Homo sapiens: one gene and its partner. The protein of the gene in region 2 purifies or fractionates together with the protein of the main gene of each other region. This does not show direct contact. Each region holds a gene or a part of one and is shown on either strand. Other genes may lie near its edges. The genes, in order: PALD1 and PRORP.

Region 1 (3,815 bases), on a different chromosome or scaffold from region 2:
GTCCCAGCTACTTGGGAGGCTGAGGCAGGAGAATCGCTTGAACCCAGGAGGCAGAGGTTGCAGTGAGCTGAGATCACACCATTGTACTCCAGCCTGGGCAACAAGAGTGAAACTCTGTCTCAAAAACAAGAAAAAAAAAAAAAAGAAGTTTGCTCAGACAACTAACCTGAAATCTTACATCTTAACACACACCAAGGACAAAAACAATCAGTGAACAGAAGAGAAAGAAGCCCCTTCTCCACCATGGAAGTGCCTTCCAGAAGTATAACAGGGAATAAACATACCTCTCCTTTGTATATTATTTCTAGGAAGAATTTTAAAGATGAATCCTACATACTTAAGGGAGATGTTTTGAAAAATAGTAAAAAAAAAAAATTTAACTTTAATAATAAGATAACATTGCTAAGATGTTCGTACTCTGTAATCTTGTTTCAAAAACATGGTGGTTTTGTGAAGTATGATCCCAACAGAAGGACAATTCATGAATTTCACATGAAAAGACAGTTCTTTGTACAACACTGCTAAAAATGGGATTTCTTTCCATATTCTTAAAAATATGAAGCTCACCTATTGTTTACAATTTGTTTAACTTTGTATTTTCCAAGTGTGCATATTGGAATGGGGGATGCTTAGCAATACTATGTGTGCATTTTCTGAAGGTTGATAACTTTGCTTGCAGTAAATTTTCTTTAAAAGAATGGGCAGTTGCAGCTGGGCGCAGTGGCTCATGCCTGTAATCCCAGCACTTTGGGAGGCCGAGGCGGGCAGATCACCTGATGTCAGGAGTTTGAAACCAACCTGGTCAAAATGGCAAAACCCCATCTATACTAAAAACACAAAAATTAGCCAGGCATAGTGGCACACACCTGTAGTCCCAGCTACTAAGGAGGCTGAGGCAGGAGAATCGCTTGAACCCGGGAGGCGGAGCTTGAGTGAGCTGAGATCACGCCACTGCACTCCAGCCTGGGTAACAGACCGAGACTCTGTCTCAAAAAAAAAAACAAACAATAAAATAAAATAAAAGAATGGGCAGTTACATGTACACTTCAAAAGTATTTTCCTGTTTAAAAAAAGTATATGGGTTTTGTTTGCTATCTTAATTTTGGTTGTATTCTTTGATGTAAACACATTTTCTATCATTGCATCATTCAGCTATATTGAATCATGTAGTATCAAATATTAGACGTGATTTAACAGTGTTAATCAATTTAAATCCATTTTAGTCTTTTTTTAGAAAAATATTGGGGTCGAGCACGGTGGCTCATGCCTGTAATCCCAACACTTTGGGAGGCCAAGGCAGGCAGATCACCTGAGATCAGGAGTTTGAGACCAGCCTGGCCAATGCGGTGAAACCCCATCTCTATTAAAAATACAAAAATTAGCTGGGCGTAGTGGTGGGCACCTGTAATCCCAGCTACTCAGGAGGCTGAGGCACGAGAATTGCTTGAACCTGGGACGCAGAGGTTGCAGTGAGCTAAGAATGCGCCACTGCACTCCAGCCTGGGCAACAGAGTGAGACTCCATCTCAAAAAAAACAAACAAACAAAAAATATATTGCCAGATGCTGATGTTCAGTGTACTTTCTTTGCCTGTTCAATCATGGAAGGTGGCACTCAGTTGCAGAATGTGTTGTACCTTTCAGCACCTGATGTATACATCCCGTGTAACAGAAAGGGCAACAATAAAACAGTGATCCTAAAAAAAGCCGGGGACACATCCATGGGCCACTCTGTGACCAGCAGGAAAGGGGTTAACTCCTTCAGGAGATTCTCCATTCCAGGAAAAGGAAAAGGGGAGGAGAAGTCCCTTCTGTGCTTTCCAAACAGAATCTTCGAAAAATGTCCCAGCGTCCCAGGCCTCCATTCTGGGAAGGCCAGACAGAGGCCGGCACAGCCCACAGAGAGGAAGGGCCTGGGGCTCAGCAGGATGCAGAAGCTGGCAGGGTCCCAGGTCATCTCAGGGCACCCACCCCTCTCCCCTCCCATGGGCCCCAGCCCAGCCTGTTGGCCGTTTCCCAGGGTACCCACAGCCCTCACAGCACCACATCCTCTCTCCTTGGGGAATTTCTGAAAGCCCCAGCTCCCTGGGAGCCCAAAGCATTGGCAGTGACACACCCAGTTCCCAAAGATGTTCTCTACTGCCTTCCATGGGTGTGCAGATGACCCAGACACCCCACCTGCCTCTCTCATCAGTGCCCCAGCTTCAGCCCAGGCAGGGGCACCCCTTAAAGCCAAAGTCAGCCCACATGCCAGTTATGGGAAATACACAAAACGCTTCACAAGGGCTGTCACACCTCTGCCACGCTGCTCTTTCTGCTGGGGAAGCCTTGCCCTCCTCCTTTGCAAACTCCTGGCCATCCCTCAAAGCCCACGTGAAGTATCACACACACCCCAGGCCAGCCATTCCCTCCCTCAGGCTCCAACCATAACTAGCACAGACCCCATCACAGAACCAGACATGGTGTCTGCATGTACCTCACTCACCTCCTGGCAGGGACAGAGTTTAATCTACCTTCGGAGCCCCTGCACCTCATACTGAACCCAGGGCCAAGAAAGCTCAGGAACCCACATCAAGATGCCACGCTGGTCCCTTCCCACCAACTGGTCCTGTGCAAGCATCCTGGCCTCTGCTGAGAGAATAACATCGTGGTAATAACATAAGCACCTAATGTTTACTGAGTACTTCCTAGGAGCCAGACAGCCTCGGAGGCTCTCTGCGATTACCTCCTTTCATCCTTGTGACATTCTCATAAGGGAGTTGCTATCCTTAACCCTGTTACACAAGGGACTTGAGGCACAGAGAGGTTAAGTTTCTTGCCCTGGGCCACATGGCTAATGAGGGAGGGAGCAGAAATTCAGACCCTGGTAGTTTCTTTCCAGAGCCAGTGTTCTTAATCACAACAGGTCTATTTGCAGGTAGGAAGATGGTCGAGGCAGATGTGTCAGGAAAAGCCCTGAGTGGAAAAGGAACTCAGGGATTATAAAGGCCAGTGCTTCCAGACCTTCTCTTTCCCCGGGTCCCAGCCAAAGGCCTCGGAAGACAAACAGAGCCTCCTCCCAGACTAAGCCTGCTGCTCCCAGGCTCAATCCTGTGCTGAGCACCAGTTACAGGAAACATAAAAAGTCCATCTGCAAGTGCCTTGGCCCAAGACAGGGGCAGCACATGGCTGGGCTGCCCTCTGGGAAACGAAAGCCATGATTTGGGACTATTCTTAGCAAACACTGGCTCCCCTCCCAGAGGCCCAGCAGTCAGCAGGCCCAAGCTTCCATACGCCCGCCCAGCCTGCCATTTCCTGACCCCGTGTATGGAGGTCCCACAGGGCTAAGGAGGGACTAGTGGGCACCGACTGAGGACAAAGCCCTCCAGCTTTCACAGGAGAGGTGCCTGGCCCACCCAGCCTGCTCCAGACCTCACCCAGAGGCCCAGGGCCATGCACCTGGCTGCTGAGGAAGCCCTGCAGAGTCCTGGCCACAGGGGATGGCTCATAATCAAAGGCCCCCACCGCCACATCAACTGAGCACTCACTCCATGCCATGCACTGGGCCACATGCTTTGCACTGATTTTCTCCCACTGAACCCACAAGGAGGTAGAGGTTACTGACCCCACTCTAAAGATGAGGAAACCAATACATTAATTGACTTGCTGGAGGTTGCATGGTGCATTAGTATCAAAGCATATCTAGAATCTGGGCTGTCTCTCAGGTGCCAGGTTGGGCAGAGGAGACCTGAGCATAGCCAGGTGGGGGACCCCTTCCCTGTGCAAGCCCACGGCTTAGCAGAGAAGGAGCCCGCCCCAGAGGGCAGTGGCTCTCATC
Region 2 (3,815 bases):
TTTCAAAAAACCAACTTTTTGTTTCATGATCTTTTGTATGGTTTTCTTAATTCCAATTTCATTTATTTCTACTCTGATCTTTATTATTTAGTCTCTCCATTTTGGGTTTGGTTTACTCTTGCTTTTCTAGTTCTTTAAGACGCATATTTGGCCGGGCGCGATGGCTCATGCCTGTAATCCCAGCACTTTGGGAGACCAAGGCTGGTGGATCACCTGAGGTCAGGAGTTCGAGACCGGCCTGGCTAACATAGTGAAACCCCGTTTCTACTAAAAATACAAAAAAAAAAAAAAAATTAGCTGGGCATGGCGGCGCACGCTGGTAATCCCAGCTACTCGTGAGGTTGAGGCAGGAGAATCGCTTGAACCCAGGAGGCGGAGGTTGAAGTGAGCCGAGATCACGCCATTGCACTCCAGCTTGGGCAACAAGAGTGAAACTCCATCTCAAAAAAAAAAGATGCATATTTAGGTTGTTTATTTTAAGTTTTTCTTCTGTTTTGATATAGGCACTTATAGCTGCTTTTGTTATATCCCACCGTGCCTAGATACATTTAATGTTATTATTGATAAGTAAGGACTTAGTCCTGCCATTTTGTTTTCTGGTTGTTTTGTGGTCTTATTTTTTCCTTCCTTTCTTCCCTTTAGTGAAGATGATTTTCTCTGGTGATATAATTTAGTTTCTTGCTTTTTATTTTTTGTGTATCTGTTGTATTTTTCTTTTTTTTTTTTTGAGATGGAGTATTGCTCTGTCGCCCAGGCTAGAGTGCCGTGGTGCGATCTTGGCTCGCTGCATCCTCCACCTCCTGGGTTCAGGAGATTCTCCTGCCTCAGCCTCTTGAGTAACTGGAATTACAGGCGCACACCACCATGCCCAGCAAATTTTTTTTTTTGTATTTTTAGTACAGACAGGGTTTCACCATGTTGGTCAGGCTGGCCTCGAACTCCTGACCTCATGATCTGCCTTCCTCAGCCTCCCAAAGTGCTGGGATTATAGGCGTAAGCCACCGTGCCCAGCCTTGTATGTTTTTTGATTGGAGGTTACCATGAGGCTCACTAATACTTAACTATAGCCTATTATTTTAAGCTGATAATAATTTAACACTGTATAAACAAACAAGCAAAAAGAAAACTAATAAAAACTCTACACCTTTACTTTGTCTCCCTGCTTTTTAACTTTTTATTGTTTCTATTTATATCTTACTGTACTATCAATGTCTTGAAAAGTTATAGTCGTTATTATTTTTGATTGGTTCATTGTTTAGACTTTCTTTTTTTTTTTTTTTTTTGAGACGGAGTCTCGCTCTGTTGCCTAGGCTGGGGTGCAGTGGCACAATCTCAGCTCACTGCAGCCTCTGCCCCCCAGGTTCAAGTGATTCTTCTGCCTCAGCCTCCCGAGTAGCTGGGACTACAGGTGCCCGCCACCATGCCCGGCTAATTTTTTTGTATTTTTTAGTTGAGACGGGGCTTCACCATGTTAACCAGGATGGTCTTGATCTCCTGACCTCATGATTTGCCCGCCTCGGCCTCCCAAACTGCTGGGATTACAGGCGTAAGGCACTGCCTCACTAAACTCATTGTTTAGTCTTTCTAAAGATAAGAGTAGTTTTAGTTTACACACCATAGTTACAGTGTTATAATATACTATGTCTTTTTGTGTACTTATTATTAACAGTGAGTTATGTACCCTCAGATGATTTCTTATTGCTCATTAATGTCCTTTTCTTTTTTTTTTTCATTGAGATGGAGTCTCACTCTGTCGCCCAGGTTGGAATGGAGTGGCACGATCTCAGCTCACTCCAACCTCCGCCCCCACTGGGTTCAAGTGATTCTTGAGTCTTACCCTCCCAAGTAGCTAGGATTACAGGTACCCTCCACCAGACCCGGCTAATTTTTGTATTTTTAGTAGAGACAGGGTTTCACCATGTTGGCCAGGCTGGTTTCGAACTCCCAACCTTACTTTATCCAGCTGCGTCGGCCTCCCAAAATGCTGGGATTACAGGTGTGAGCTACTGCACCCGGCCTATGTCCTTTTCTTTCTGCCATTTTTTTTTTTTAAATATAGAGACAGGGTCTTACTATGCTGCCCAGGCTGGTCTCAAACTCTTGGGCTCAAGTGATCTTCCCACCTTGGCCTCCCAAAGTGCTGGAATTATAGGCGTGAGTCACCAGAGTAACGGTCCTTTTCTTCTTCTTCTTTTTTTTTGAGGCAGTCACTCTGTCGCCCAGGCTGGAGTGCAATGGCGCGATCTCAGCTTACTGCAACCTCCGCCTCCTGGGTTCAAGTGATTCTCCTGCCTCAGCCTCTGAATAGCTAGGATTATAGGCGTGCACCACCAGACCTGGCTAGTTTTTGTATTTTTAATAGAGACGGGGTTTCACCATGTTGACCAGGCTGGTCTTGAACTCCTGACCTCAGGTGATCCACCCACCTCGGCCTCCCAAAGTGCTGGAATTACAGGCATGAGCCACCACAGCTGGCCATCCTTTTCTTTCTGATTGAAGTACTCCTTAGCATTTATTGTAGGATAGGTCTGGTGTTGATGTAATCTCTCAGCTTTTGTTTGTCTGGGAAAGTCTTTATTTCTCCTTCATGTCTGAAGGATATTTTCACTGCATATACTATTCTGGGGTAAAAGTGTTTTTCCTTCAGCACTTTAAATATGTCATGCCATTCTTTCCTGGCCTGTAAGGTTTCCACTGAAAAGTCTGCTGCCAGATGTATTTTAGCTCCATTGTATGTTATTTGTTTTTTTCTCTAGTTGCTTTTTGGTTTTTTTTTTTTTTGAGACAGAGTCTTGCTCTGTCACCCAGGCTGGAGTGCAGTGGTGCTATTTCGGCTCACTGCAACCTCCACCTCCTGGGTTCAAGCGATTCTCCTTCTTCAGCCTTCCGAGTAGCTGGGATTACAGGCATCTGCCACCATACCCAGCTAATTTTTATATTTTTAGTAGAGACAGGGTTTCACTATGTTAGCCAGGCTGATCTCGAACTCCTGACCTCAGGTGATTCGCCTGCCTCAGCCTCCCAAAGTGCTGGGATTATAGATAGGTGTGAGCCACCACACCTAGCCAATCCTTTCTTTTTTTCTTTTTTTGAGAAGAAATCTCACTCTTGTCCCCTAGGCTGGAGTGCAGTGGTGCTATTTTGGCTCACTGCAACCTCCGCCTCCCAGGTTCAAGTGATTCTCCTGCCTCAGCCTCCCAAGTAGCTGGGATTACAGGCACCTGCCACCACGCCTGGCTAATTTTTGTATTTTTAGTAGCGACGGGTTTCACCATGTTGGCCAGGCTGGTCTCGAACTCCTGACCTGAGGTGATCCGTCCGCCTCGGCCTCCGAAAGTGCTGGAATTACAGGCATGAGCCACTGCGCCCAGCCCCAATCCTTTCTTTATCCGTTGAAGGTTGGATTATTCAACTGGGTGTGGTGGCTCACACTTGTAATCCCAGCACTTTGGGAGGCTGAGGTGGGTGGATCAGCTGGGGTCAGGAGTTCGAGACCAGCCTGGCCAACGTGGTGAAACCCCGTCTCTACAAAATATATAAAAATTAGCCAGGCGTGGTGGCGGGCCTCTGTAATTCCAGTTACGTAGGAGGCTGAGGCAGGAGAATCGTTTGAACCTGGGAGCCGGAGGTTGCGGTGAGCCAAGGTCACACTACTGCACTCCAGCCTGGGCAACAAGAGCAAATCTCCATCTCAAAAAAATAAAAAACAAGAAAAAAAAGAAAGTTGGATTATTCGTCCAGGCATTGTGGCTCACGCCTGTAATCCCAGCACTTTGGGAGGCCGAGGTGGGTGTGAATCACCTGAGTTTAGGAGT

The links.
Region 1: the proteins of PRORP (region 2) and PALD1 purify together in Homo sapiens (co-immunoprecipitation; one large-scale study listed by IntAct). This does not show direct contact.

Annotation. Positions count from the first base shown.
Region 1 is NC_000010.11:70,481,733-70,485,547, reverse strand, and holds part of PALD1 (paladin), read right to left. Parts: exon of another isoform or gene 2,484-3,815; intron 1-2,483.
Region 2 is NC_000014.9:35,128,766-35,132,580, forward strand, and holds part of PRORP (mitochondrial ribonuclease P catalytic subunit isoform 1 precursor), read left to right. Parts: intron 1-3,815.